Linked DNA regions of Homo sapiens: regions 1, 2 and 4 are each reported to be linked to region 3. Evidence: microRNA targets listed by miRTarBase, many of them from high-throughput screens and not tested one by one. Region 3 holds a microRNA gene; each other region holds the end of a gene's coding sequence.
The links. The annotated mature microRNA hsa-miR-6732-5p reads UAGGGGGUGGCAGGCUGGCC and lies in region 3 at 5,465-5,484, shown strand. An mRNA with a match to its seed (bases 2 to 7 or 8) in the 3' UTR can be bound and repressed. Matches are read on the target gene's strand: a 7mer-m8 pairs with bases 2 to 8, a 7mer-A1 pairs with bases 2 to 7 and ends in A, and an 8mer does both.

Region 1 (7,846 bases), not on the chromosome of region 3:
GGCCCAGCTGAGGCTGGTGCTGGGGCTCCACACCCTGGACAGCCCCGGTCTCACCTTCCACATCAAGGCAGCCATCCAGCACCCTCGCTACAAGCCCGTCCCTGCCCTGGAGAACGACCTCGCGCTGCTTCAGGTGTGCAGGGACGGGACAGGGAGAACTGGGCACCCTCCTGTCCCCCACGGGTGCCCCTCACCCCCACTGCGCCCTCCCCCCGCTGCCGACCCTCCCCCCGCACTGCTGCCCCTCCCCCCGCACTACTGCCCCCTCCCCCATTGCCCACCCTCCCCCCACTGCCACCCCTCCCCCCGCTGCCGCCCCCCGCCCCCGCACTCTCACCCCCTCCCCCTGCTCACCTGCCCCTTCCTGTCACTCGTAGCTGGACGGGAAAGTGAAGCCCAGCCGGACCATCCGGCCGTTGGCCCTGCCCAGTAAGCGCCAGGTGGTGGCAGCAGGGACTCGGTGCAGCATGGCCGGCTGGGGGCTGACCCACCAGGGCGGGCGCCTGTCCCGGGTGCTGCGGGAGCTGGACCTCCAAGTGCTGGACACCCGCATGTGTAACAACAGCCGCTTCTGGAACGGCAGCCTCTCCCCCAGCATGGTCTGCCTGGCGGCCGACTCCAAGGACCAGGCTCCCTGCAAGGTGAGGGGCGCCCGGGTGGGGCTGGGGGAATGAGGCTGGCGGGAGGGCCGGGGCCAGGGCAGCCGCCGGGCAGGTTCCTGGCTCTCCCGTTCTCTGGGGAGTCCTGTCAGGGGCTGGGGGGCGGGGAAGCACTGGCAGGGGTCCCGTTTCTCAGGTGCAGAAACTGAGGCTCAGACAGGTTTAGCAACCTGCGCAAGACCACACAGCCGGGAAGCGGCAGAGCTGTGACTTCTGCTCCAGCCAAGACGGTCCGGCGGGGGAAGAAGGAGCAGGGTTCACAGGGCCAGCGGGAGATGGGGAGGGGACACGCGTGGGCCGGGAGCAGCCCCTGTGTCTCCTTGAGCCTGGGGATAACAGGCCTGGCCCTGCTCCCCTCGGCGGGCCCTGCTCCCCTCGTCCCCTCAGCAGGTGCAGAGGCTGAGCTGCGGTGTGTCGTCCCTGCAGGGTGACTCGGGCGGGCCCCTGGTGTGTGGCAAAGGCCGGGTGTTGGCCAGAGTCCTGTCCTTCAGCTCCAGGGTCTGCACTGACATCTTCAAGCCTCCCGTGGCCACCGCTGTGGCGCCTTACGTGTCCTGGATCAGGAAGGTCACCGGCCGATCGGCCTGATGCCCTGGGGTGATGGGGACCCCCTCGCTGTCTCCACAGGACCCTTCCCCTCCAGGGGTGCAGTGGGGTGGGTGAGGACGGGTGGGAGGGACAGGGAGGGACCAATAAATCATAATGAAGAAACGCTCAGAGCCCGCCTGAGTCCCAGCCCACCTCTGTCCATGCTGGCTGTGGGGCTTCCGACAAACCTGTTTCCCTCAGCCTCCCGAGTAACTGGGTCTACAGGCGCCCGCCACCACGCCAGGCTAACTTTTGGTATTTTTAGTAGAGAAGGGGTTTCTCCATGTTTGTCAGGCTGGTCTCCAACTCTTGACCTTGTGATCTGCCCACCTCGGCCTCCCAAAGTGCTGGGATTACAGGCGTGAGCCACCGCGCCCGGCCCTTCCCTGTTTTAAAAAGGGAGGTTGTGGATCCCAAGGCTTCTCCCAGGAGGGGGCGGCGTTGGCCAGGACTGGAGCGGTGGCCGGGTCTGCAGGCTGGCAGGGGTGGGCGGCCGTCCTCCCCGCGTGGCTCCTGGGGCTGGGCCTTGAACAGCATCCCAGGATCTTCTTTTTTAGTAACAGCTTTTATCAAGTTACAACTCACATAGCAGATGAGTCTCCCTGTAAACTGCGATTCAGGGGCCTTTGGTACCTGCACAGAGCTGGGCAACCACCACCGTGACATGTCACCCCAGCACCCCGAAAACAGGCCCGTCCCCAGTCACCCCAGCACCCCGAAAACAGGCCCGTCCCCAGTCACCCCAGCACCCCGAAAACAGGCCCGTCCCCAGTCACCCCAGCACCCCGAAAACAGGCCCGTCCCCAGTCACCCCAGCACCCCGAAAACAGGCCTGTCCCCTGTCACCCCAGCACCCTGAAAACAGTCCTGTCACCCCAGCACCCCGAAAACAGCCCTGTCCCCACTGTCACCCCAGCACCCCGAAAACAGGCCTGTCCCCACTGTCACCCCAGCACCCCGAAAACAGGCCCGTCCCCACTGTCACCCCAGCACCCCGAAAACAGGCCTGTCACCCCAGCACCCCGAAAACAGGCCTGTCCCCCTGTCACCCCAGCACCCCGAAAACAGGCCTGTCCCCACTGTCACCCCAGCACCCCGAAAACAGCCCTGTCCCCACTGTCACCCCAGCACCCCGAAAACAGGCCCGTCCCCACTGTCATCCCAGCAGCCCGAAAACAGGCCTGTCCCCACTGTCACCCCAGCAGCCCGAAAACAGGCCCCATCTCTATCACCCCAGCACCCCAAAAGGAAGCCCCACCCCCATTGTCATTCCAGCACCCCGAAAATAGACTCTGTCCCCACTGTCACCCCAGCACCCCAAAAGGAGGCTCGTCCCCATCGGCCGTCACTCCCCGTCCCCACCCCAGCCCCGGTGCCCTCACATCCCCTCCCTGTCTCTGGATGGGCCTGTGCTGACATTTCATGGACAGGGGATCACGCTGCGTGGCCTTCTGTGTCTGGCGTCTCCCGCTGAGCGTGACGTCCTCAAGCTGCACCCGCGCGCTGGCTGGGTCCGAGCCGTGCTCCTGCTCCGGGGGGTCGAGCTCCAGCTCGAGGGGGGCCTCGCTGCGTTTGTGGGTGCGTCCCTGGGTGCACATCTGGGCGGCTTCGTCTGCGTCCGTCCGTCTGAAGCTTTGCTGGGAGCCGCCTGTGTGCGTTTTCGTGTGGACCTACCTGCTCCTTCCTCCCTCCAGATTAGACCCGTGGGAGTGGCATCTCGGGCTGTTCAGTGACTCTGTTTCAGCGCCGCGCTGTTTTCCTGCAGAATCTTTTAATTTCACTACCAACTCTTTCTTTCTTTTCTTTTCTTTCTTCCCTTTCTTCCCCTTCTTCTCTTTCCCTCCCTTCCCCTTCTTCTCTTTCCCTCCCTTCCCCTTCTCTCCCCTCCCCTCCCCTCCTCTCTCTTTCTTTCTTTCCTTTCTTTCCTTTCTTCCCCGTCTCCCCTTCCCCTCCCCTCCCCTCTCCTCCCCTCCCCTCTCCTCCCCTCCTCTCTTTCTTTCTTTCTTTCTTTCTTTTCTTTTCTTTTTTTCTTTTATTTTCCTTTCTTTTCTTCTGATGGAGTCTCAGTGCGTCACCCGGGCTGGAGTGCAGTGGCACGATCTCGGCTCACTGCAAGCCATCTCAGGTTCAAGCGATGCTTGTGTCTCAGCCACCTGAGTAGCTGAGGGATCACAGACGTGCACCACCACGCCCAGCTAACTTTTTTTGTATTTTTAGTAGAGACTAATAGAAACACAGGTTTCACCACGTTGACCAGGCTGGTCTTGAACTCCTGACCTCAGGTGACCCGCCCACCTCGCCCTCCCAAAGTGCTGGGATTACAGGCATGAGCCACTGTGCCCACGTTAATGGTTTTTTATTATTTTATTTTATTTTTAGACAGTTCCCACTCTGTTGCCCAGGCTGGAGTGCAGCCTCAGCCTCCCAAGTAGCTGGAATCATAGGGGTCCACCACCAAGCCCAGCTAATTTTTTTGGATTTTTACTAGAGACGGGGTTTCACCATATTGGTCAGGCTGGTCTCGAACTCCTGACCTCAAATAATCCACCCGCCTCGGCTTCCCAAAGTGCTGGGATTACAGGTATGAGCCACTGTGCCCGGCCGGGTTAGTGTTGTAATAGACTTAATTTTTAAAACCATTTTTGGTCTGCAGGAGATGTGTGGCGGCTGTATCCACAGGGTCCCCCGCGTCCCCGCCCCCAGGCTCCTGGCCGCTCCCCTCTCCAGTCAGCAGGAGTCACGGCTGACGAACTCACATGAATGCGTGATTAACTACTAAGGACCTACTCTTGGCTCGGATTTCCTCAGTTTCCCCTAATGTCTCTTCCTGCACAGGGTCCCACCCGGGACCGAACCTGCCGTTTCGCCGCAGCCTCTCCTCGGCACCCCCAGGCTCCGACCGTTTCTCAGAACTCCGTGTCTGGAGGCCGGCTGGACGGGATTTATGTAGATTACGGGTGTGGACCACTGCACCCGCCAGCTATCTCATGTTTTTCTCTCGATTGGACTGGAGTCACAGTGTTTTTGGGAGAGGCAAGTGCATTTTTAATCTTTAACTTTTTTAATTTTTTTATGTTATTTTTTTAGAGACTCCTGGGCTCCAGCAATCCTCCCACCTCAGCCTCCTAAAGGATTACAGGTGTGAGCCACCGCGCCCGGCCTAATCTTTAACTTTTTATGGCATCATTGGCAGTGGAAGGTTCTCAGGTCACAAGTGAAGAGCCTCATAACTCACAAACCAGGCACGCCCCTGTTCCCGGCACCTGGGTCCAGACACAACCCCCTGCCCCGAAGCCCCTCCTTAGCCAAGTACCCAAGTCCAGTCTCTTTTTTTTTTTTTTGAGATTCGAGTCTCGCTCTGTCCCCCAGGCTGGAGTGCAGTGGTGCAATCTCGGCTCACTGCAAGCTCCACCTCCTGGGTTCACGCCATTCTCCTGCCTCAGCCTCCCCAGTAGCTGGGACTACAGGCGCCCGCCACCACGCCTGGCTAATTTTTTAAATATTTTTAGTAGAGACGGGGTTTCACGGTGTTAGCCAGGATGGTCTCGATCTCCTGACCTCGTGATCCACCCACCTCGGCCTCCCAAAGTGCTGGGATTACAGGCATGAGCCACTGCGCCCCGCCCCAAGTCCAGTCTCTAACCCCAGAGATGGGCCCTGCCTGTTTGGGTTCTTTTTTTGTTTTTTGTTTTTGTTTTTGTTTTGACACGGAGTCTCGCTCTGTCGCCCAGGCTGGAGTGCAGTGGTGCAATCTCGGCTCACTGCAACCTCCGCCTCCTGGGTTCAAGCAATCCTCCTGCCTCAACCTCCCGAGTAGCTGGGACTATAGGCACGCGCCACCACGCCCGGCTAATTTTTGTATTTTTAGTAGAGACGGGGTTTCACCAGATTGGCCAGGCTGGTCTTGAACTCCTGACCTCATGATCCGCCAGCCTTGGTCTCCCAAAGTACTGGGATGACAGGGGTGAGGCACCACGCCCAGCCCCTTTGGGTTTTTAAATTGTTCATTCATGGCCAGGCATGGTGGCTCGCGCCGGTAATCCCAGCACATCGGGAGGCTGAGGCGGGCGGATCACGAGGTCAGGAGTTCAAGATCGGCCTGGCCAACATGGTGAAACCCTGTCTCTACGAAAATTACAAAAAAAATTAGCTGGGCATGGTGGTGGGCACCTATAATCCCAGCTACTTGGGAGGCTGAGGCAGGAGAATCACTTCAAGCCGGGAAAGGGAGGTTGCAGGGAGCTGAGATCACACCACTGCACTCTAGCCTGGGCGACAAGAGCGAGACTCCGTCTCAGAAAAAAAAAAACAAAAAAACCATAAATAAAAAATTTTTTAAAAAATGATAAATGTTTGCAACTCTAGCTATGTTAATGTCTGATCAGCACACATTGTATGTATTGAAACGTCACTATGTACCCCATGAATATGTACAATTATTATGTGTTCTTTTTTTTTTTGAGACAGAGTATTTTGCTCTTGTTGCCCAGGTTGGAGTGCAGTGGCACGATCTCGGCTCACCGCAACCTCCGCCTCCCAGATTCAAGCGATTCCCCTGCCTCAGCCTCCCGAGTAGCTGGGATTACAGGCACCCGCCACCACGCCCGGCTACTGTTTGTATTTTTAGTAGAGACGGGGTTTCGCCATGTTGGCCACGCTGGTCTCAAGCTCCTGATGTCGTGATCCGCCCGCCTCAGCCTCCCAAGGTGCTGGGATTACAGGCGTGAGCCACCGCGCCCGGCATGTGTTCATTTTTTTTTAAAAAAAAAAAAGGATAAAAAGGCCAGGCACGGTGGCTCACGCCTGTAATCCCAGCACTTTTGGAGGCCAAGGCTGGTAGATCACTTGAGCCCAGGAGTTCGAGACCAGCCTGGCCAACATGGTGAAACCCCGTCTCTACTAAAAATACAAAAAAATTAAAATTAAAAATAAAAACAAATAAAGAAAAGATAAAAAGAAAGCCAGGCCTCTTGGCAATGAAAGCTGCCCGGGGCAGCCCTCTCCCTCTTCCTGGTGCAGGTGTGTTGCCAGCGTGGATGTCCTTCGTGGACGTGAACTTATTTTACAAAAGAGCACTTGTCCAGAGCTAGTCCTGAGCCTGCGGTTTCTGGGAGTCACCAGCTCGAACGACGCAGGACAAGTACACTTTGGGGTGGCACGTCCTGGTGCTGTTATTTTGGGGTGGGGTGTCCTTCCGTGGTACGGCTGGACCACGTTGCCTCTGTCCACTCACTGCCCTCGAGGGATGGGTGAGCTGTTTCCACCTTTGGCTGCCGTGACCTGGGCTGCTGTGAACTTCGCAGACGTTTGTGTTTCTTTCCCGCACGGAAACTTGGACAGAAGCTCCTTGTCACGTCCCACAGTCACACGGCCCCTGCACGTGCTTAAAAGAAGCTGTGGTGTTTTTTTTTTTGTTTTTTTTTTTTTTGTTGTTGTTGTTTGCTTTTTTTTTTGAGACGGAGTCTCTGTTTCCAGGCTGGAGTGCAGTGGCGCAATCTCGGCTCACTGCAACCTCCTCCTCCCGGGTTCAAGTGATTCTCCTGCCTCAGCCTCCCGAGTAGGTGAGATTACAGGCACCCACCACCACGCCCGGCTAATTTTTGTATTTTCAGTAGAGATGGGGTTTCACCATGTTGGTCAGGCTGGTCTCGAACTCCTGACCTCAGGTGATCCACCCGCTTCGGCCTCCCAAAGTGCTGGGATGACAGGTGTAAGCCACCGTACCCAGCGGAAGCTGCGATTTTCCTTATTCCTTGACATCCTCAAGGGAGACCCTGATGTAGAGGCAGGGAGGCTAGGAAGGAGGAAGCATCCAGCCCAGTGGGGTGGACCCGTCAGAAATGCTCAGAGGCGGCCGTGCATGGTGGCTCACACCTGTCATCCCAGCATTTTGGGAGGCCGAGGCGGGCGGATCACCTGAGGTCGGGAGTTCCAGATCAGCCTGGCCAACACAGAGAAACCCCGTCTCTACTAAAAATACAATGTTAGCCGGGCGTGGTGGCGCATGCCTGTAATCCCAGCTACTGGGGAGGCTGAGGCAGGAGAATCGCTTGAACCCGGGAGGCGGAGGTTGCAGTGAGCCAAGATTGCGCCACTGCACTCCAGCCTGGGCGACAAGAGCAAAAAACTCCATCTCAAAAAAACAAACAAAAAAATGCTCAGAGGCAAGGGTTGAGCTTCCTCTCCAGCCTCCTCCAGAGGTCACAGGGCACCGCCCCACCCCACCCACCCCACCCACTGGGTCCTGGGGTGACTCCAACTGGACAGAGATCAGTGGAGGCCAGGCCAGGCTGGTGTTTGGTGAGCTGGAGCCACGCCCCGGGGAGAGAGCTAATCTCTGAGCCCGGACGTGCCTCATCAGTGGTTCCCTCCTGCTGTGCTGAGATGTCCCCACCCCAGCCCCGGTGAGTGACTGGGGACTTAGAGACACAGAACCAGCCACCAGCAGGAGGCTGACACCCTGTGTGGGACACGCAGTGCCCTGGAAGCCTCCACCCCTCCGTCTGTGTTTTCGTGGTTTTTTTTTTTTGAGACAGGGTCACCCAGGCTGCAGCGCAGTGGTGCAATCCTAGCTCACTGCAGCCTCAAACTGCTGGGCT
Region 2 (7,846 bases), not on the chromosome of region 3:
CCATGATCAGGGGAGGCGACCAAGGCTAAATTAAAGGATAGAAGGGGCTACAGGGACAGGGCTAGTTCTCTTGCAGCGTGTGGGTGAGATTAGAAGCCCTTCCAGTCAAGCCATGGGCACGGCAGGGCAAAAGCTTTGTAGCCTGGAGGATGCCTGATATTGCCCAAGTGAATTCAGCAGTGACATGAGTGAATGGCGGAGACAGAAGCCATGGCTGCCGAAAGCCTGGGCCCCCTAGTGGCAAGTCCCGCCACTCTGTGGCTAAGTGGGGGATCTGAAGAGGTGATGTTTGTCCACCAAGCTGGGGAACCAGTGATGCTCTTTTGCTTTGTAGATTTCTCCTCTATCCCCTAACAATCCATTAAAGTGGATGACACCCTTATCATGGCAGAGAAGCGGCAGACATTTTGAAATGACAGAGCTTTTCTTTAACATATACCAAATCAAATAGTTGGGTAGCAGTCCTTTCTGCCCCGGTAGGGCTTTTTGCTGTTCTTTTTGCCCTCCCTCTCTTTTTCTTTCTGCCCCCACCCCATCATTTCATATATAATTATGTAACTTATAGAATGTCTGTTTTGCTCTTTAGAACAGCAGTCACCATGCTTTTTGGCACCAGGGACTGGTTTTGTGGAAGACCATTTTTTCACGGACCAGGGGTGGGGTGGGGTGGGGTGAAGCGAAGATGGGGATGGAGGGATGGTTTCAGGATGATTCAAGCACGTTACATTTATTGCACACTGTATTTCTTTCTTTTTCTTTCTTTTTTTCTGAGATGGAGTTTCGCTCTTGTAGCCTAGGCCGGAGTGCAATGGCACGATCTTGGCTCACCGCAACCTCTGCCTCCTTGGGTTCAAGCAATTCTTCTGTCTCAGCCTCCTGAGTATCTGGGACTACAGGCTCATGCCACCATGCCTGGCTAATTTTTGTATTTTTAGTAGAGATAGGGTTTAGTAGAGGTGCCTGTAATCCCAGCTACTCGGGAGGCTGAGGCAGGAGAATGGTTTGAACCCGGAGGCGGAGGTTGCAGTGAGCCGAGATCGCACCACTGCACTCCAGCCCGGGTGACAGAGTGAGACTCCATCTCAAAAAAAAAAAAGACTGGGCACGGTGGTTCAAGCCTGTAATCCCAGCACTTTGGGAGGCTGAGGCGGGTGGATCACTTGAGGTCAGGAGTTCAAGACCAGCCTGGCCAACATGGTGAAACCTCATCTTTACTAAAAATACAAAAAAATTAGCCGGGCATTGTGGCATGTGCCTGTAATCCCAGCTACTCAGGAGGTTGAGGCAGGAGAATTGCTTGAACCTGGGAGGTGGAGGAGGTTGGAGGTTGCAGTAAGCCAAGATTGCGCCACTGTACTCTATCCTGGGCAACAGAGCAAGACTCCATCTCAAAAAAAAAAAAAAAAAAGAAAAAAAGAAAAGAAAGAAAAAGAAAAAAGGAAAAAAAGAGTATGTCTCAGGGTATGTGATAGGGATTGTGTGTCTTGTTTATTGCTGTTTCCTTGGCCCCGAAAATAGTAGCAGGCATGCATTCATTAGTCTGACAAGTTGTTACGGAGTTCCCATCACCGTACCAGGCCCTGTCCCAGGCGTGGGGGCTGGAGGGAAGTAGCAGTTTGCCAAACACTGCCTCTGCTCTTATGGAACTTCCATTCTAGGGGGGAGAGATGGGTAACAAACAAATACATGGTCCTGCAGGTGGTGACGAGTGCTCAGTGTGCAGTGAAGCAGGCTAAGGAGGGCTTCTCTCCACCTAGACGGCTCAGGAAGTTTGCTCTGACCCTGAAGGAAGGGCGGGAGGGATCCCTGGGAGAGTACAAGGCAAAGTTTAAGGCTTCCAGGTGAGCACATGCTTGGCAGGCAGTACAGGGGATGGTAGGGATGAGGCTGGAATGTGCTGGGCTTGAAACTTGACCTTGACATAGGCTCTAGGCCTCTTGTGACCTCTCAGAGCTCGTGGGACCTTGGAGACCACTCTAAGGACTTCAGCTTTGATTTTTGGGTGGAATAGGAAGCCATTGTAGGGTTCTGAACATAGTGACAGATCTTATCAAAAGGATCTGTCTGGCCGGGCATAGTGGCTCATACCTGTAGTTCTAGCACTTTGGGAGGCCAAAGCAGGAGGATCACTTGAGTCCAGGAGTTGGAGATCAGCCTGGGCAACATAGTGAGACCCTGTCTCTACAAAAAGTAACAATAAAAATAAAATAGCCCAGAGCAATGGCATGTGCCTGTAGTCCTAGCTACTTGGGAAGCTGAGGTGGGAGGACTGTTTGAGCCCAGGAGATCGAGGCTGCAAGTAAGCTATGATTATGTCATTGTACTCCAGCCTGGCCAACAGAGCGAGACCCCAACTCTTGGGAAAAAAAAAAAAAAAGAAGAACCTGCAGAGGCTCAGAAGAGGCTCCTGCCTTAGGCCAGGGAGGGAGGCCATGTCCAGGGGCAGCAATGCAGGCAATGGGCAGTTGCTGCCTTGGGATGTGCCTGTATTTGAAGGCAGAGCCAACAGAACTGCTCTGTTGACATGAGTAGGTAATTAGCAAATATTTGTTTGAATGAGTGTTGAATCATGAAACTCCCTACAGTCCACTGAAGCTCCCCCTCCTTCAGAACATCCGCCTTGACTGTTGCTGGAGTCTACACCCACAACCGGCCCTTTCAGCTTTCTCCTGTCCCCTGCTCTGGCCCCATCGTCAGGGAGCGTCTGTGGGCTCCTCCAAACTCGATGGGTCTCCCAGTTCCATGCTCTCACTGAGCTCAGCCTGCTGTTTGGGCAATGTCTGCCTTCATCATTAGATCACCAGCTGCCTAAGGGCAGGGGCCCTGTCTGTCCTGCTCAGTGCTGTGTCCCCAGCCCCTAGGAGGAATCCTGGTACACAAAAGGTGCTCAGTAAAAAGGTGCTGAGTGGTGAACTGGTCTGCCTCTGGGCTTTTGCTTCTTTTCTGGCCAGGCTGAAGGGCTACAAGCTGAACTCCAGGCAAGGGACAACTGCCTACCCCTTGTCCCAGAATCTGGGTCCTGTTCCCCTCATGCTCAAGTTCTGAGAGGTCACAGGAGGCCTAGAGCCTATGTCAAGGTCAAGTTTTCTTTTTTTTTTTGAGATGGAACTTTGCTCTTGTTGTCCAGGCTGGAGTACAATGGCGCGATCTCAGCTCACTACAACCTCCACCTACCGGGTTCAAGCGATTCTTCTGCCTCAGCCTCCCAAGTAGCTGGGAGTACAGGCGTGCGCCATCGCGCCCAGCTAATTTTATATTTTTAGTAGAGATGGGGGTTTCACCATGTTGGCCAGGCTAGTCTTGAACTCCTGACCTCAGGTGATCCGCCCGCCTCGGCCTCCCAAAGTGCTGGGATTATAGATGTGAGCCGCTCCGCCCAGCCCAAGTTTTCAGTTTCTAGAGTACCTGTGTGCCCCCACCCCCACCGCCCTCTCCACCCCAAACTTGAGAAAAGACAGCCACCCAGTGGTCATTTTTCTAAACTTTTGTTTATTTTTATAGCAATCGTCATGTTTAGAGAAGTAAATAACACATTTAAAAACCTTCTCAGGGCCAAAGGATGCCAGAGTATTTACAAACACATGGAGGAAGGGCGGCAAGACATGAGGGGCTGGGGCTCTGGGGCTAGGACTCTACCCAGGACCCCGCCCCAGGCCCTGAGCCAAGCATGGACGCTGATGTCAGCCACCAGGACTGTCCCACTGGCCACAGTGTGGGCTCAGGGAACATTCTGGCAGCCGTGGGGTTCTGTTCAGTGGGCCTGGTGGAGACCCTCTAGCCGACCTGTGGCCCCGCCTCCCATCCAGGGGGCTTCCCGTGCCCCACAGGCCAGCTCAGAGGGGTCTCTGGGAAGCACCGAAGGACAGGGGGCAGTGTGGGGGACACAGGGTCTGGGACAGAGACACGCACACACATACACACATACACACATACACACTGTACCTTCACAGAAGAATCGCAACAAGGGAGATTTTTTGTGTGATTTTTTTTTTTTTGTCTTCTAAGTCTTCATGTCTACAGTGTTATTTTTTGCTATTATTTTTTGTTTCTTCGACAGTGACATAAACTGAGGTAAACATCTGTGACCAACACCTCTCCTAAGGGGCAAAGGGTCCCAGCCCGACCAGCAGAGGAGGTGGCAGCACCAGGGCCCCAACCTGGTGTTCCGGTTCTGCTCTGGGGTCAGGCTGGAGGCTGGCCCTCTGGGTGCCTCTGGGAATGAGGGGGCTGGGCTACATAACTATGGTCCCCTCCCAACTCTAACATACTAGATACTACAACGGCTGGGGAAACTCCCGAACAGGATCTTAACAGAGAGAGGGAGAGAGAGAAAGAGAGGAGAGAGAGAGAGAGAGAGAGAGAGAGAGAGAGAGAGAGAGAGAGAGAGGGAGAGAGAGAGCGCGCGCGAGAGAGAGAGCGAGCACGGCAAGGGACGTCTACTGTGGAATCTCGATTCCTAGTTATTGCAGGAGAGATCAGGATGTCGCGAGGCCTAAGGCAAAAGGAGAAGTCGCGGCTGGGAGAGGCAGCCCCGATGGGCTCCAGGTGGGCCGGGGGCAGTGACCAGGGCCTTCTCTGAGACCTGGTCCTTGGAGGGAGTGGGGGTTTGCTACTTACCTGGCATGTGGAGGGCCCATACCCACTGGGGAGGTGGAGTCTGGAGAGGAGTGGGCACAGCAGGGAGAGTGGGGCCAGGCCCTGGGGCCACCCCACACTGTTTGTAAACTGGACCCGGGCAGGGCAGGGGACCTATAGCCCTTTTTCAAGGTGGGAATGAGTGGGGAGTGGAGAGGTTGGGGCACCAGCCAGAAAGTGCTCGGAGTTCACTCTGGCCGGCCTGGCCCATCAAAGAGCCCCTCAAATGGCCCAGAACCCCAGGAGGGACCCTGGCAGGGGACCCTGACAGGGACAGCCTCACCCATGTGGTGCTTATTGCGGGGGTCCCGGGCCTCCACAGAGAGGGGCAGGGGGTCAGGCGGGGCTGCTGTTGTCTCTGTTTTGCTACCTGGGGGCCTGAACCAACCTGCAGGGGCCTCCTTGCCGGATTTCCTGAGGGCTGTGGTGCAAGGCAGGCCTGGGCGCCCTGGGACAGCTGCCTGGGAGGACCAGGGTGTGGTGGGGGGGCCGCTGGTGAGGGGTCTGGACGCACAGTCACTGAACGCAAAGGATGGCACCCATGCGTCTGCACCCTACACATGTGCACACACACCTAGTCACACACTCGCCCCCTGGTGTCCACCGCCCCCATTCTCACACCCACACATGCAGGTCCTACGCCCTGCACACTCCAGCGCCAGAAAAGTGGGAGACGTGAGGATGGGGTCTTGGAGGTTGGCATGTTTGACCCCAAGAAACCCAGGAGAAATTTCCAGCACGAACCAGCTCGCCACCTGCTGGAAGCCCAGGCTACTACGTCTAGGCTGTGTGGCAAGGGCTGGGAGGACCCGGCAGAGGTCCCTGGGCCTGGGACAGTGCGGCTGGCAGGGGGAGCTGGGACCTGCTCTCGGCTCCACACTAACTCCCCTGCCCTAAGGATGGGGGCAGCTGAGACCCCTGCCCTGTGAGCCCTTCTATCCCCACAAGTTGTCAGGACAATCCCTTGTGGTTAGGGGGAGGGGCGGGGAGAGAGCTCTATTTCTCAGCCAGTGCCAAGCTACCCTCCCTCCTGGGCTGTGATTTCATTTGTGCAATGGGGGTGTGCAGGAGTCACTAGCTTCTCGGGGCCTGTCCCGCACATACACGCACTTATGCGACATCCAGACATTTGCTACATTTTCCAAGGGCTTGGCCTCTCCCCTCCAGCCTCCAGAAGGGAGGGCAGGACACAGCTGCCCTTCGCTCACTGCCCTGATCCCAGCCTGTGCCCAGGGGCCTTAAGCCCCCTCTCTGCCCAACACTTCAGTCCCTTTCTGTACCCAGGGTGGGGAGGGGGCAGAATGGGATGGCGAGGAGGAGGGGATCTGGGGTGGGACCGCAGGATGATCTGCCAGGGGGTATGGAAGGCCAGGAGCAACGAGTCCGGGTTCCAGGGCTCAGGGAGGCGTCTGGGAGTGTGGCCCGAAAGCTCCCTTGCTCCTGGCGTGTGTGTGTGTGTGTGTGTGTGTGTGTGTGTGTGTGTGTGTGTGTGTGTGTGTGTTGTGTGGTGGCCTCCGAATTCTCGGGTCTGTGCGGCTTGGCTCCTCTGGGCCAAGCCCCCGCTCACCAGGCCGCGCTAGGGGTCTTTGGTGGCCCCCTCACCAGCCCGCCGGGGACGGACCAGGTGCCGGGCCGCGTCCTGCCTAGTCTACCGCTGCGCCCCCTGCCCCGCGGCGAGGTGGCTCCATTCCCTACCGCCGCACCGGGCACCGGCTCGGGGCGGGCCCGGGCTGCTCCCGGGTCCGAGGGCGGCGGAGGCGACTCAGACGCAGATCTCGATGGCCGTGGCCAGCACCACCTGCCCTTTGCTCTTGTCCGCGCGGCCGTCGGTCCGGCCGGGGGGCCCCTGGGGAGCTAGGCCGGGCTCGGGCACAGGCACCGGCACGGGCACTGGCACCGGCACCGGCACGGGCAAGGGCACCGACCCGACGGCGGGGGGCGCGGGCCGGGAGCCGCTGCCGCTCTCGGTCAGCACCGTCCGCTTGAGCGGCCCAGGCGCCTCGAGGCGCAGTGGCCCGGCGGCGGGCGGGCGGTCCCCGGGGGGCTTGCGCGCGCGGTGCGAGGGCCGGCGGCGCAGCTCGGACGTGAGCTCGTGCTTGAGGAAGCGGAACACCTCCTTGGCTGGGCCGCGGCGCTCGGGCTCCAGGGCCAGTAAGCGCTGGAACATGCGCAGCGCGGGCTCGGTGAAGCGGCGCCACTGCGAAGGCAGCCCCGGCAGGCGGCCCCGCTGCCAGCGCACGAACTCCTCGAAGAAGGCGTCGGCGCCCGACGCCGCCTCCCACGGGAAGTTGCCGGTGAGCACGCAGAAGATGAGCACGCCGAAGGCCCACACGTCCACGCCCGTGTCCACCGCCAGCCCGTCGGCGCGGCCCGCCTGGCACACCTCAGGCGCCGTGTAAGGGATGGTGCCGCTCACGCGCTTGACGCGGCAGCCCACGCGGCGCGTCATGCCGAAGTCGGCCAGCTTTACGCGGCGGCACTCGCGGTCGAACAGCAGCACGTTCTCGGGCTTGATGTCGCGGTGCACCAGCTGCCGCCCGTGCATGAAGTCCAGCGCCAGGCCCAGCTGCTGCACACAGCGCTTCACCGTGTCCTCAGGGAGCCCCACCTGCGGGCGGCCGGGGGAAGCCGCGCTGTTTCCAGCTCTCCAGCGCCCGCCCCGCCGCCCTCCCCTCCAGCTCCCTCTCTAGCAAGGCGGTTTTCGCCTCCCACCCTGTCCCCAGTAACTGGGGCGACCGCGCAGACGCGGCCCGGATGCTGCTGAGCGCCCTTTCCCCCGCTGTCTCATCCAATCCTCATAGTGGCTACCATGCCTGCTTCTCCTATGGGGACATCGGGGCTCCAGGAGGGACACGCGGCTCTCCAGGAGGTTGATGAGGGGGTCCGCGGCGCCCTCCACCTGCTGTCATTTTGCCCTGCCTGCTAGATACTTATCTCGTCGGTCTTCCCCAACTAGAACGGGGCTCCCTGAGCTTCCCGTCCTGTTCCCTGCTGTGTCCGTGCATCTGTGTCTCCAGATTCTGGCATGTAGTAGGTGCTCAGCAAAGAAGGAGGACCTGCTCCGAAGGTCTCATCACTCAGCCAGCAAGTGGCAGAGCAGATTTAAAGCTAGTGCCTGGAACCCTCCCCCACCGTCCCGGTTCCAGGGTCGCTTCCTCTGAGGGCCCCTTCCCAGGTGGATCTGACACCTCTCCTCTTGTGTAGCCCCAGG
Region 3 (7,688 bases):
GTTCCCCGGCCCGCCGGGCCTCAGGACCCCTCCAACTTTGCCCAAGTTGGGAGAGCCGGGGAAGAGCACCAGGTTCCTGATCGGGATCGCGGGCCGAGCAAGCGCGGGTCTCGGGCCGGGACAGCCTCGGCGTCACCAGCTCCCGGCAGCCAACCAAAGTTTTCCAGCAACTTTTCTCCCCACGGGTCACCCCAGAAACTTGCCCTCCCCGGCTCCGGGAGTCCGGCCATGGGCCTTGCGCTGCCTGGGCCTGAGCTCTGAGTGCCGGACGGGTGGGCGAAAGTGGTGGCCTCAGTGGGGAAGCCTTGGGCCCCGCAACGCACTTCCAGCCCCAGGATTCCATCTGAGAGCCCCGTCCCTGCCTTCTGGGTCCCCTGGGTTGGCGTGGGGGTTCGAGGCTTTACAGCTGGGGTAGTTCCAGTCTTAGTTCAGACTAAGTTCCGATCTTCGAGCCACCAGCTAACAGCTGGATGACCTTGAGCACGTTTTTAATGTCTGTGCCTCAGTTTCTCCCTTTATAGAATGGGAATGGGAATGCCTAGCTGGGAGAGCTTTTGAGAGGACAACCTGAACTAATAACACGATGCAGTGTGTAGTGCCACCAATCCCTCATCCTGCTGGATGTGGTTTTGGGAGGGAGGTTAGGAGAGAGCGCTATTCACCGTCCCTAACCCTGTTGGTTGTTCAGTAGGAGCTGTGGCGCGGGGCCTTCCAGGAGTCTGAGCTATGAGTGGCCCCTGTGGAGAGAAGCCTGTCCTGGAAGCCAGCCCCACCATGAGTCTGTGGGAATTTGAGGACAGCCACAGCCGTCAGGGCACCCCAAGGCCGGGTCAAGAGCTGGCCGCTGAGGAGGCCTCGGCCCTGGAACTGCAGATGAAGGTGGACTTCTTCCGGAAGCTGGGCTATTCATCCACGGAGATCCACAGCGTCCTGCAGAAGCTGGGCGTCCAGGCAGACACCAACACGGTGCTGGGTGAGCTGGTGAAACACGGGACAGCCACCGAGCGGGAGCGCCAGACCTCACCGGACCCCTGCCCTCAGCTCCCTCTAGTCCCGCGGGGTGGTGGCACCCCTAAGGCTCCCAACCTGGAGCCTCCACTCCCAGAAGAGGAAAAGGAGGGCAGCGACCTGAGACCAGTGGTCATCGATGGGAGCAACGTGGCCATGAGGTAAGTGTCACTTCTGTGGCCAGGACACATGAGGTTCGCATCTCTCCTGTGGCCAGGACACATGGAAGGATGACTGTCTCTGCAGCTCTGGTGGGCTGGAAGAAGTGACTTCCTTCTTAGGGACTGGTCTAGAGGGAGGGAAAGCCTTTTATGAGGCTAGGGTCGCGCTACTGGTAAGTGACAGAGGCAGGGTTCCAGCCCAGGTCCCTCTGTCCGCAGAGCTTACCTTATGCTGTGGGTCCCTCCCTGAGGCCAGCACTGTGTCTCCACTCCTCTCCTGTAATGTGAGGCAGGGCTGTAAAGGGGACCAGCCCGTGGGCAGCTGCTCACTCACCCCTCGGAACCTGATCTCAGGTGGGTGTTGTGAGGAGGGAGTGTGCGGATCCCGGAGAGGAGCAAGCGTTCAGGAACCATAGTAGTGGTAGTAGGCAGTGGTAGTAGCAGTTGTTGTTGTTATTTCAGGGGCTGGGCTTCTGAGGCCTTCTTGTCTCAGACCTGGGCTCCCACGAAAACAGGTCCAGTGACTGTGTCCAAGAGTGACCTCAAGGCTGGGTCCAGCTTTACATGGGTTGTGGGCAGGTGGCCTGATGCTCTGGCCTCAGGCGAGCTGCAACTTGGATCCCTACTGACTCAGCTGAAGCAGCCTGGGCTGGACCAGTCTCTGGAGGTTCCCCGGGGCCAGAGCCAGGACTCAGCCCCCAGTGACTCCCACCCCCATCCCCCAGCACAGGAATGGGGTGGGGAGGTAGGGGCAGAGAGGGAAGCCAGGGCTGCTGCTGACCTTGGGAAACCCAGACTTCTCCCGTCAATCCAGGCTCCACCCTCTGGCCCCACTTTTTTCCCAGTTCCCTCCAAGGCAGGCTGATGAGTCAGTGCTGGGTGGATGGCTCACAGGGAAAAGTTCCTGTTGGCATGGACGGGGAGACCCCAGACACAGGGTTGAGAAGGGATGATTTTCTGGCTGCCCTGAGGGAGCTCCTAGGTGGGCTGCCCAAGGCTGGCATGACATCAGCCTCTGCCCTCCCTAATTTGTGGCCCCTGTGGGACAAGTTCACTGTCCAGCTGGCCCTGGCCCAGCTCAGCAGGCATGCAGCTGAGTGCTCTTCCCTCCTTCTGTCACCTTCAGGCCAGTCTTCCTCTCTCTGACTTGGGCTGAGCCTGGATGGGAGGCTGAGAAAATCCAGTTTCCATGCCAAGAGGCAGCAGGTCACAGCCCATGCTTCGAGATTAGAAGGGGTCCCTCTCAGTGTCCAGCCTCATGTAGCTGGGCTAGGAGCTAGGTTGGATCTGTGTGACTCCTTCCTCTGGAGGTATGGGCCAGGAGCGGCTGAGCCCTGGGAGCAGCCATATGCAGTATGTGTTTGTATCCAGAAGGAGGAGGGACATGGGAGGAGGGGCTGTGATGAGGGGTGCTCAGAGGAGCCTGCTCCTGAGAAGCAGAGCCACGCACCCACCTCGGGGGTTTCTGAGCTGGGGTAGTGGCAGGAGGGGAATTCCAGCCTCAAACTTCCTGTCTCAGCTGCTACTCGGTTCCTGCCCGGCCACCCCCCCTCCCCAGGGGCAGGCGGGCTAGCCCCCCCATCATATGCAAATCATGGGGAAATTCACCTCTGTTTCCTTCTAAGGGAATTTTTTTCCACTCGCCAGGCCCAGCCCAGGCATATCTTTTCACCTGGGGAGGCTGGCCCAGCCCTGCCTTCTGTCCTGGGGCAGGAGCAGCCTAGCTGGAGTCTTCTACACACACATCCTATCAGTGTCTGCTTAGCCCGGCTGGGGGACCCTGACCTTACAGGCAAAGAGAACTGGAATGGGGGCAGGGATGTCTGGTTTTCCTGTGCCAGCAGCGCTTCCTCCAGTGCAGTGAAAGAGACTAAAGCTAGCTGTAGGGGGGCACTCCAGGCCTCATGTGCTCTACCAGGAGGAGGGCTCTGATAGCGCCCACTGATCAGTTTTTCCATCTGCTGAGGGAATATTCAGGTGCTAGGGCTGCTGAGAACCGACTTGTCCCAGCCAAGATTTTCAGTGCCCACAGGCAGTGCACTGCCCTGAGAGCCCTGGCATCCCATTAGTTCCCAGTGCTCCAAGATACTAGCCTAGGATCATGTGCCCGGAGGGAGGCAGGTGGGCGGATACATGCGCACACTGCATACCTGAGACAAGGAGCCAGGCCTGGGATGACCCAGCTGCCATGGTTTTGAGAGGCAGGCCAGAAGGCCCAAGGAAGGGGGGTGATGTGATGGGGGAAGCACTGGGCATTGTGAAGACACAGACCAGGGACCTGACCTATTGTGGCAGGTCAGGGAAGGCTTCTCAGAGGCAGTGACATCTCACAAGGGTTCTGAAGGAAGAGCAGGAGTTTGCCAGCAGCATTGTTTCTCCCGTTCGCCACCTGTCTCTCATAACACACTTTGTTCAAACTCAATTTTGGGAGCTTTGTTCTCCCAAATAAATTCTGGATCTTCTGTTAGAGACAGGAAGGCAACCGAGTGGCCCAGACCTGGGTTCGAGTTCTGACTGTCTCTTACCACTAGCCAGGTGACCTTCCTTTCCTTCACGGTAGCAAGCCCTATAAGAATGAAGCCATATATCTGGCCACCAGCGGGAGCTCAGTGCCTGCGAATCCCTGCTCATTCCCTGCGATCAGGGTCTGTGCCTGCCTTCGTACCTGCCTGAGCATTGACGTACAGGGTAGTGATAAGCATAGGCCCTGGGCTTGCGTCTCTCTTCCACCGTTAACTGCTGTGTGACCCTGGTGACTAAGCTGCCTTCTCTGGACCACAGTTTTCATCTGAAAAACAGGGAAGGAGTTGATGATGGTATAGTGCCCTCCTCACAAGCTTGCTGATGATTCAGTGTTAGACACTTATAACAGGGCCTGGTTCACAGCTCTCAGCAAATGGGAACTTTTATTATAAGCAGGCTGGCAGATGTGGCAGAGGGACCGGGAAGGATGAGTGCTGCCCTGGGCTGGACTTTGTCTCCCCTACAATTTAGAGACCTTCAGACCCTGGTGCCCCAGTCTTGCCCCCAAATAGCCTCCATGGCCCCCAGCTGCCCCACCTCCCTCCCTAGCTTCTCTTAGGGCTCCAGCTATCACCCCTTACCTCCCCCACTCCCATTAAAGACACCCACAGGATGTGGTTGGCCCTGGACTTGCCTCTTTTGCGTAACATTTATTCTGTTTTATTTGCCAAATACGAGAGTCTAAGCTGTTCACTGAGGGGGCAGTGAGACGTGGGGCTGCTGGTCCTAGGAGCTCTTCCATGACACCTAGTGTTACCTGGGAGCCCCAAGCCCCAGTCCCCCATCCCTCAGGAAATCCAGTTGGAACCCCTACTTTGCAGGGCCATCTTTGGCCTGAAGCCACCAGGAAAGCTGTCCCACTGACTGACCCCTCTTAAGGAAGCTGCAGACTGCTGGGCCCATTTTCAGATAGAGGAACGGAGAGCTGCGGCAGCCCAGGAGCCCTGCCAGGCTTCCTTCTGGGTGCAGCCACCTGTGGGTGGGGCGCGGCCTCGTCTGAGACCAAGGCAGGGCCCATGCCTTACTCAGCTGTCCTTGCTAAGAGTCCCCTAGCATCTTCCTGATGGTCTTTCTGCCTTGGGGTGAAGAGGCATTTGGGGGAATTGCCATCTTGGGAGGAAAAGCAGTATCCTTTCACTTTCAGACTGAAAGGCTCCTGGGGAACTTGCTTCACTCCGGCGCTTTCTGTCCCATGCTGAAGGCTGGAGTCGCCAGCCCCTTCCCCTTTGCCTTTCTCAGGCCCCAGTCCCTGAGGTGTGTGTGAGGACTGAACTTTAATCCGGAACAATCTGGTTTCTCCTCGGTCAGCCCAGCCGGTGCTTCCCCCGCCCCCACCCACGCTGCAAGAGGCGAGGGAGGGGTGGTGACTCAGTGTGCATGTGTACATCTGTCCCTGTGGTCCCGGCAGCTCGCCGGGTGGGGCAGGAACCAGAAGTCTCGCGGCACCTTTCCCCCACCCCCAGGTGTGTTGCAAGTGGCCTGGCCCTCCCCCACCGTGGGGAGCAGTGCTGCCAGCTTCCTGGGCGCTTCCTCACTTTCAGGAGATGGAGCCTCAGGGAAAGTCCCAGCGGGGCCTGGCCATCCTGGAGCTGTGGGAACTGGCACTGGGAATGGAGGCCTTGGCCTTGGGCCCCACCTGCAGAGGGCCAGGGCCTGAGCCCTGGGGAAAGGGGAAGGGGCTGGTGACTCCAAAGGGGAAGGGACTGCTCACTACCACCACCAAAGCCAGGGCAGGGGTGGGGTGTGACCACCTCCCTCCTCCTGCTCAGGCCTAGGGGGTGGCAGGCTGGCCATCAGTGTGGGCTAACCCTGTCCTCTCCCTCCCAGCCATGGGAACAAGGAGGTCTTCTCCTGCCGGGGCATCCTGCTGGCAGTGAACTGGTTTCTGGAGCGGGGCCACACAGACATCACAGTGTTTGTGCCATCCTGGAGGAAGGAGCAGCCTCGGCCCGACGTGCCCATCACAGGTGAGTGGTGCCTCTGGAGGTGGGATGGTCTTACTGCCCCAGCAGCCCTGGTTCTCCCCAAGAGAGACCCTCTGGGAGTGACCTACAACTTCTAGAACTCAAGCAGGGACCAGCATTTCTTTTCTCAGTTTTTTCTGTCCTTAGCAACCTGCTCTGAATGGTGGTCATTGGAGGTCACCTTGTCCAGTCTTCTGCCTCAGATCTGGAGCCCCTCCCTCATCCTACTGGTGGGCAGGTCGCTCTTTCAACATCCCCAGTGGCAGAAGCGCAGTATCACATAGTGGTTAAGCCTGTGGGCTCTGAGTCGAGACAGCCAGAGTTGGAATCCTGGCTCTGTCCCCTCTTGGCGCCCTGGCCTGGACAGGGACCCCTCTTAGCCCTGCTCTGAGCCACATGCTCCTCATCTGAAACATGGGGTCGGTGTCAGCAGGGGGTGTTGACAGCATTGCCTTCCTCGTGAGGTCATATAAGTTAACACACGGTAAGTGCTGAGAAGAGTACCTGGCACATGGTAGATGCTCAGTGTATGTTAGCTGTTACCACTGTTCTTGCAAGAGCCCCCAGCCTTTGGAGGTAAAAACTGAATCAGTTTCTCTAGAAGTCTTGAGATCTGGGGGCAGCCTGTCTGGGACTGTAGGCTCCAGGAAGAGGGGCCCTTTCCACTTGCACACTTCTGTGTCCCTGTGGTCCCAGCAGCTCCCCAGGTGGGGCATGGTGAGTGGCCTGACCTTTTCCCACCATGGGATTTAGCGACCTTGTCCTGGCAATGCAAGGGACAGAGCCAAGATACTTCTCCCACCCCAGAGCAAGCTGCGGCTCATTCACGGACCCCTCAGAACAGGCTGGATGAAAGCCAAAGCCAAGACCACATCTGGCTTGAACAGGCCTGATGTCCAGAAGGAGAAAAGGAACAAGGCCAGCTCTGTGCTTGGAGCCTCTGCCATGCAGGCCCTGCCGCCTGTGTTCAGATGTTCTTGGTCTTCAGGCAGCAAACTGTGCCACGCCAAGGGAGGGGCTGGGGCATGGAAGAGGCCTCAGCAGAGTTAGTTCTTGCCCCGGTGACCTTGGCGTTAACCACTCCTGTGTGTGGCCATCAGCAGGTTAGGGAGCCCTGTAGGCCTGGCTCTAGGTCCCGCTGGGCCCTGACCTGTGTGCACCCGTCACCTCCCAGACCAGCACATCCTGCGGGAACTGGAGAAGAAGAAGATCCTGGTGTTCACACCATCACGACGCGTGGGTGGCAAGCGGGTGGTGTGCTATGACGACAGATTCATTGTGAAGCTGGCCTACGAGTCTGACGGGATCGTGGTTTCCAACGACACATACCGTGACCTCCAAGGCGAGCGGCAGGAGTGGAAGCGCTTCATCGAGGAGCGGCTGCTCATGTACTCCTTCGTCAATGACAAGTATGTTCCCTCCCAGAGGCCCTGACAGACTTGGGGTCCACAGGGGAAGCCAGAGGTGCCCTTGGCAAGGGTGGAGCTGGGGGCTGGGCTCTGCGGGGCCCTGTGGCCATGGGAGGTTGCGGGTCTTGGCTCCAGGCAGCTTTGAGAGTGAGACGGATAGCTCACCACATAGGAGAAATCAGACCGGGACCAGGCAGGCTGTGGGGTGGAGAGAGTGGCTAATTTGGGAGATAGAGCCGTAGCACTTATGAGGGGATGTATGTGGTTGATGGTTCCAGGTGGCCTCTCTACGAACCAACATGGCATCTCTCGAGCAGAGGCCATGGGCCAGTGGGTGCGGGCTGCCATCCCCCGACGACCTCAGAGAGGGAGTTCCCCTAAAGGTGCCCATGGGCTGTGGCCCTCTAGACCGGGGATCCCTTTCTCCTCCCTTGGTATGATCCCACCCATAGAGCAGTTTTGCGGGGTCCTGGACAGGCCCCAGTTTTAGGTGTCACTCTCCTATTCTTCCCAGCAAGGCTTGCCATCGGCCCCTTCTCAGCAATTAGAAGTCCCTGCATGGCTCCCACCTCCAGAGAGTTCTTTGCACCCTCTGCAGGTTTATGCCCCCTGATGACCCACTG
Region 4 (7,000 bases), not on the chromosome of region 3:
CAGGTGTGCCCACCCACCCAGCACTGGCTCAGCAGAGGCACCTCTGCCCCTTTATTCTCTGATCTTTTGCTCCACCATCTGGCCCTCTGCCCTCTAGCCTCCTGCCCTTTGCCCCCACATTTCAGATCCTTCACCCTTATTCCGGCCATAGAGGACTGTGGCTGGCCTGGCCTAGGTCCCTGTGACCCTGGAGAGCAGGGGGTCTAGCCCAGTGATCTCTGACCATAGTGATGCAGCTCCCACTTATGACACCTTAAGCTCCTGCCCTATATTCTCTCCCTGACTCTGGAAGCTTTCTAGCTTTACCGCTTCTATTGATCCACACTCTGTCTCTGCCTTCCTGCCCCCTGACCACTGCCTTCTACCCTCTGCCCTGGCTGCAGATGGAGGACCTGTATGAAGACTTCCACATCGTGAAGCTGCCGCTGTTACCCCATGAGGTGCGGGGGGCAGACAAGGTCAACACCTTCTCGGCCCTCCTCCTGGAGCCCTACAAGCCCCCCAGTGCCCAGTAGCACAGCTGCCAGCCCCAACCGCTGCCATTTCACACTCACCCTCCACCCTCCCCACCCCCTCGGGGCAGAGTTTGCACAAAGTCCCCCCCATAATACAGGGGGAGCCACTTGGGCAGGAGGCAGGGAGGGGTCCATTCCCCCTGGTGGGGCTGGTGGGGAGCTGTAGTTGCCCCCTACCTCTCCCACCTCTTGCTCTTCAATAAAATGATCTTAAACTGCTGTATTGTTGACATTGGGAGGTGAGGGTAAGCACCTTTATGTACAGTTGCACAGGTTGTGCACTGGACAGAAGTGTCACATCTAGAGGGGCCCATTCACAACAGAGACCTAATAGAGATGCATGTTTATTGTGGCAACTTTGGAAGGAGGGTGTCTTGGGTGAGAGATACCTTTGTCTCATTCTGTGTGGGTTAAGGTGTCCCTGTTGGGCCTGTGAAGCCTGGAATGGAAGACAGAGGCATTTTCCCACTTCCTTGGAGGCTCAGAGCGTGGGAACTGGGAGGCCCCTTGGCCAGCCCCAGGCTGGTGGGGAGCAGAGCAGATTAGGCCGGCAGTGGGCCCGGCACTGCCTGCTGTTTGGTTTGGGAATTAGTGGGCGCCCTGGGGAGAGGCCAGGCCTGCCAGACTGGGGATTAACAGTCTCCACCCCCCAATTCCTGCCCCCATGGGATGGCATCAGCCCCTCCCAGCAAAGGGCTGCAGCAAGGGGGCTGGTTAGTGGGCAGGGTGACAGAGGACTCCGGCTGGAGGGGCTCCTGAAGTCTCATCCTGACTCCAGAGCGGTCTCAGGCTGTGGGCACACAGGCCTGGAAGGCACCTAGTGGACCCCCTTATCCCCTGCCCTTCGCTCCTCCCTCTGCCACTGCCTGGGCTGCTATTGTTGTCCCCACTTGGGAGACTCAGGATGGGGTATGACCTTGAGAGTTTACAAGTTCCAAGCCAGAGCTGGCTAGGGGGGACAGAAAGGGGGTTCCTGAGGACACACGTGAGTCGGTGTTCAGGCCGGGCGCGGTGGCTCACACCTGTAATCCCAGCACTTTGGGAGGCCGAGGTGGGTGGATCACTTGAGGCCAGGAGTTCAAGACCAGCCTGGCCAACATGGCGAAACCTCGTCTCTACTTAAAATACAAAAATTAGTCGGGCATGGTGTTGGGGTGCTTGTAGTCCCAGCTGCTCCAGAGGCTTAGGTGGGAGAATCGCTTGAACCCCGGAGGCAGAGGTTGCAGTGAGCCAAGACAGGGTAAGACCCTGTCTCAAAAAACAAAAGTGGTGTTCAGGTCCAGTCATGGTGGCTCACGCGTGTAATCCCAGCACTTTGGGAGGCCGAGGCAGGTGGATCACGAGGTCAGGAGTTGGAGGCCAGCCTCCAACTACTCTCTACTAAAAAGACAAAAATTAGTCAGGCGTGGTGGTGCCCACCTATAATCCCAGCTACTTGCGAGGCTGAGGCAGGAGAATCACTTGAACCTGGGAGGCAGAGGTTGCACTGAGCCGAGATTGCGCCATTGCACTCCAGCCTGGGCAATAAAGTGAGACTCCGTCTCAAAAAAAAAGTGTTCAGACCCAGAGTCTGGGTGTGCCAGGGTGTGTGTGTAAGGGGAACCCCACCAGGAGCCTAGACTTGTCACTCCAACTCCCTGGGGTGTGCACAAGCAGGTGTGGGCCTGTTGGGGTGGCATGTGTAAACAAACACGATGGTACAGCCGGCTCCGCGCCAAACTGCCAGGATCCAAATCCCAGCTGTGCTACGAACAAGATGAGATGTGACATCGGAGCCTCAGTTTCCCTACTTAGATAGTAAGATGACCAACTTAGCATGCCCGTAAGGATTCCATGAGATGAAACACGCAAGGCGTTTATACCAGCACCAGACAGGAAACCGCAAGAAATGTTTGTTATTTTTCGTTGTCACAATTAGTAAGCATATCAAATAGCCCAGGAAGCCTGCCCCCAGCCCCTGCGGGAATTCAGCAGTCGGAAGTGTGTGGGGATGCGGGTGAGCTGGGGTAGGGAGGATGAAAAGGAGGAGCGGGCTTCAGTGAATGCAAGGACACTTCCTAGGGAGTGAGGGCTGCTGATCGAGAACTGAGCTCATCAGCACCGAGCCTGCCACCGCCTTGCCAGGTTCCGCAGCTGACGGCACCGCCCCAGCTGCCCCCTCGCCCCCATTTATGGGCTGTCCGGCAGCTGGACAGCGAAGGCATGGGTCACAGGGTGACCAGCCCAGGCGGGTTCCTAATTACTCCGGGCAGGGTGAACATCTGCCAGTCTGGGAACACGGCGTCCCAGCCTGCTGGGCTTGGAACCTCGGGCGGGGCTATGTAGAATGCACGAGGGGCTCCTGAGCACTCTAGGATGCCCATCCCAGGGTTTGACCCCTGAACTTCTGCCCCTCCCACACCAATCTGTGTGTTAATGTTCTTCAGGCTGGGCAATGGAGGGGGAGTGGGTACTGTTTGTACCAGGCTGGGAGTGTCCCCTTTAGAGGTGTGTCTGTGAAGAATGAACATCTGCCCAGAATCCATGCCAAATGCAGGACAAGGTTTTGTGTCCCCAAGCTTGTGTGTTCATGGCAATGCTGAGAGTATCTGAGACCTGTGGGTGTGGGTGTGGGCCTGCCGCCGGGAGGGAGCGTTGGAAAGGGGGTTGCCTTCACATATTGGTGTACAAATGCTGGTGAATTTCACCAGCGGTGATAGCTAGGGGACCCTTGAGGGAGGGGTGGCTGTTGTGTGTGTCTTTGCAAGATTGGTGAACCTCAGGCCCCGCTCTGAGCCTGGGATTGTGTGCCACCGCACTGAGGAAAGGGTTTTTGCATTTGGTGTGTGATCATGGCTGCATCTTTGCACAGGGAAGATCGGGAGTAAAACCTCCTTGCAGTGGAGTATGACTGTGTGTGTGAAGGCATTCTGAGGTCTGGGTGGGGTCTGGCACTTGGCTGGTTGTGTGGGTGTCTTTGTTACATGGCGTGATCATGACGGAATTCAGACCGTTGGGAGAGCCGTGTGTATGAAAGAGGAGAGCCTAGTATGTCAGGGTCCACCTGCCTTATATATGCGTGATGGAGGCAGGAGGGGTCGAGGTAGGTGTGTCTTGTGTGACCCTGGAAGGTTCTGTGACAGTGTGTACTGCTCCTCTGGGTAACCATAGTTATGTGAGGCTGTCTTTTTGTTTTTTCAATAGAGATGGGGATCTCCCTATGTTGCCCAGGCTGGTCTCGAACTCCTGGCTCAAGTGATCCTCCCACCTAAGCCTCCCAAAGTGCTAAAATTACAAGTGTGAGCCATCGTGCCTGGCTGAGGCTGTCTTAAGAGCAGCTAGATTTGCTTCTGGGACTATGATGTGTGTTTCTGCGTGCATCTCTGTGACACTGTGTGATTACAGGTGACTGTGAAGTGACCCAGCCTCACTGAGCAGTGTGTGTGTTTCTGGGACTGGGAAAAAGACCATCCCTGCCTCCTCCCCCAACCTCTGGGTTCCAGATCCCTAGGACCTGCCAGTGAGCGACTGGGAGGGGAACAGGGAGGGGCGAGGGAGGACAAGGCGGATTTCTCCCCCCGTACCAGGTAACAAACTTGTGGGACTCCAAACAAAATTCTGAAGCTACAGCCTAGCCGAGGGAGGAGGACCAGGAAAGGGAGGCACGCCCACTCCCCAGCCCCACCCAACGCCAAAGCCACCCGCCCATTCCATCCCTGTCCCTGTGGGTCCTTGCACCGGCCACCTTCAACACAGGTGAGATGAGCCCAGGCTTGGGGAAATAGGGGGCCCTGAGGGAAGAGGGAACCTGCGGGCAGGAATGCATCCGGAGTCCTCCCGGGGCGGGGAGTGGAGGGCTTGGAAGGCTGGAGGGGAACGGAGAGAGGAAAGGTCAAGGCGGATCCGGGAGGAAAAGGGAGTGGGGGGAGCCAGGGCAATTAAGCAGAAGGTGCACAGGCTGGGGCAGGGGGGCTAGGGGACCTGGAGGCTTAGGGACAGGGCTTCAGAGGGAGTGCAGGGAGCAGAATGGGTCAAGACTGGGAGCTGGGGAAGTGGAGAAGGGGGAGCCAGAAATAGGGGCTGAGGGAGAGAATTTGGGAGAGGTGGAGCCTTGAGAACCTAGAAACTCAGGTGCTGGGGACTTGCGGAATGGGGCATGCTACAGGTGGCCTCTGGGTGAAGGGGATCGGGCAGAGGGTGACTCGGGAGCTGACTGCAGGGACTCAAGGGTCTTGGTGGTGGGGGACGGCAGTTACCAGAGCCCACGGCCAGGAGTCCAGGGAAGGGGACAGCCTGAGATGAAGGTCAGGGAGGGGCACTGGGGGCTGGACTAGACTGAGTAAAGCTGGGAGGAGAAGGCAACTCAGGCAAGGGTCAGGACTGAAGGGGTGGCGGGCCGGAACATGGGTGGAATCCCTGTGCTCAGTTATCCCCGCACCTCTCCACCCACACCCGCAGCCCCCACCCGGGCCACCCACTCTCCCTTGGCCACACCTGCCGGGTGCCACGATGACCGTCACCTACACAGCCCGAGTGGCGAACGCCCGCTTCGGTGGCTTCTCCCAGCTGCTGCTACTGTGGCGTGGGAGCATCTACAAACTCCTGTGGCGAGAGCTGCTCTGCTTCCTTGGGTTCTACATGGCGCTGAGTGCTGCCTACCGGTGAGGCTGCCCTGAGGTGCTCATGTTCTAGCGGAGGGGGGGCAGCTATTATATATATATAATATATAAAAATTATAAAAATATAGAGATATATAAGTATATATATCTATGTTTTTTAAACTGAGATGGAGTCTCACTCTGTCACCCAGGCTGGAGTGCAGTGGCATAATCTTCTCTTACTTCCACCTCTGCCTCCCGGGTTCAAGCGATTCTCCTGCCTCAGCCTCCCGAGTAGCTGGGATTATGGGTGCCAGCCACCATGCCTGGCTAATTTTTTTGTATTTTTAGTAGAGATGGGGTTTCACCGTGTTGACCAGGCTGGTCTCAAACTTCTGACCTCAAGTGATCCTCCTGCCTCGGCCTCCCAAAGTGCTGGGATTACAGGTGTGACCCATAGCACCCGGCTGGGGGCAGCTATTATAAAAGAAGCCAGGGTGAGGGGCACAGCAAGAGAGATCTGAAGCTGGGGATGGAGTCACCCTTGTGACCTGTGACCCCTCATCTCTATCCCGCAGCTTTGTGCTGACCGAAGGGCAGAAGCGCTACTTCGAGAAGCTTGTGATTTATTGTGACCAGTATGCCAGCCTCATCCCTGTCTCCTTCGTGCTTGGTGCGGTCCAACCCCAAGTCCCCCGTTCCCATGTCCCTGAGAAACCCATATCCATTCATGCCTTTTGAGGAGCCCCCATTCCTGCCCCTCTGAGATCCCCCCCCTCAAATCCAACCCCGACAGCACTGCCCACCCATTTTTGGATCCATATCATGAAGATGCCAGATGTGGCTCTACACTCTGAGACCTGGGGTGTCACCTGGGGTCACAGTGCCCCCTGAGGTGCCCCCAGGAGAGCTCCATCTCACACACAGGACTTATTCCTGGTCACCCTGGGGATTCTCACCAGTGTCTGTTGTGTTATTAGGGGGGACAAACCCCTAACCCTCCAGGGACCCCATAGGACTCCATCCTCTCAATTCCAGCCTGGGGGCATTTCTCTGACAAGTCTTGGACCCCTAGTGACCACAAGTGACCCTAGCCTGCCCAAGGCTCCCTGATGTAGACCCTGTCCCCAACCCCTTCAGAAGTTCCTGGCTCAGGGGCCGGGTGTGGCTACTGTGACAAGCCTGACCAGATGTCTCTGATGTACACCCCCACAAACCAGGCCCCTCTCCCCTTGTTTTAGGTCCCTATGCCTTCACAGCAAGCAACAGTCTGCCCACGTGCCCCTAACATGGGCTCTGTGCCTCTATCCCCATACTGGGATCCCAATGTCACATCTGAGGTGACTCCCAAGTAGCCAGTGACCCAAAGGGCTGCTCTGCCTTTTTTTTTTTTTTTTTTTTTTTTTTTTTTTGAGATGGAGTCTCGCTCTGTTGCCCAAGCTGGAGTGCAATGGTGCGATCTCAGCTCACTGCAACCTCCGCCTCCCGGGTTCAAGTGATTCTTCTGCCTCAGCCTCCTGAATAGCTGAGACTACAGGTGCGCCACCATGCCCGGCTAATTTTTGTATTTTTAGTAGAGACGGAGTTTCACCATGCTGGTCAGGCTGGTCTCAAACTCCTGACCTCATGATCCACCCTCCTCAGCCTCCCAAGGAGCTGGGATTACAGGCGTGAGCCACCGCGCCCGGCAACTGTCCTTTCTGACCTCAGGGCTGGACCCCCAAGTTCCCAGCCCAAACGTGGTCAGGTTGGCCAGCACGCTCGGGTTTCCCTGATGCAGACCTTACGTTGCCCCCTCTCCCACAACCTGGGCCCCCAAACCCCTGGCCCTGGTGTCCCCACTGAGCCCCCATTCCCCGCTCCCCTGCAGGCTTTTATGTGACGCTGGTGGTGAACCGCTGGTGGAGC

Region 1: the mRNA of GZMM is a reported target of hsa-miR-6732-5p. Seed matches in the 3' UTR shown: 7mer-m8 at 1,266-1,272.
Region 2: miRTarBase lists SBK1 as a target of hsa-miR-6732-5p. Seed matches in the 3' UTR shown: 7mer-m8 at 5,989-5,995, 7mer-A1 at 5,607-5,613 and 7mer-m8 at 4,966-4,972.
Region 4: miRTarBase lists GET3 as a target of hsa-miR-6732-5p. Seed matches in the 3' UTR shown: 7mer-m8 at 569-575 and 7mer-A1 at 685-691.

Annotation. Positions count from the first base shown.
Region 1 is chr19:548,545-556,390 of GRCh38, forward strand. GZMM (granzyme M) reads left to right here. Exons shown (of 5, transcript NM_005317.4): 3 at 1-133; 4 at 378-641; 5 at 1,086-1,378. The coding sequence ends at 1,247. Among named protein-coding and RNA genes, the nearest start is that of GZMM, 8.4 kb to the left of the region's middle. RefSeq lists a cis regulatory region at 7,218-7,846.
Region 2 is chr16:28,319,473-28,327,318 of GRCh38, reverse strand. SBK1 (SH3 domain binding kinase 1) reads right to left here. Exons shown (of 4, transcript NM_001024401.3): 4 at 3,470-7,243. The coding sequence ends at 6,398. Among named protein-coding and RNA genes, the nearest start is that of SBK1, 31 kb to the right of the region's middle.
Region 3 is chr1:37,474,771-37,482,458 of GRCh38, forward strand. MIR6732 (microRNA 6732) reads left to right here and starts at 5,460; the gene lies at 5,460-5,519. ZC3H12A (zinc finger CCCH-type containing 12A) reads left to right here. Exons shown (of 6, transcript NM_025079.3): 2 at 689-1,169; 3 at 5,520-5,659; 4 at 6,831-7,065; 5 at 7,664-7,688. The coding sequence starts at 727. RefSeq lists a silencer at 1-4 and enhancers at 655-754, 2,465-2,764, 4,155-4,981, 4,605-5,144, 4,918-5,212 and 1 more.
Region 4 is chr19:12,747,590-12,754,589 of GRCh38, forward strand. It overlaps GET3 (guided entry of tail-anchored proteins factor 3, ATPase), which reads left to right. Exons shown (of 7, transcript NM_004317.4): 6 at 1-3; 7 at 384-734. The coding sequence ends at 515. BEST2 (bestrophin 2) reads left to right here and starts at 4,202. Exons shown (of 10, transcript NM_017682.3): 1 at 4,202-4,250; 2 at 4,953-5,155; 3 at 5,671-5,765; 4 at 6,963-7,000. The coding sequence starts at 5,004.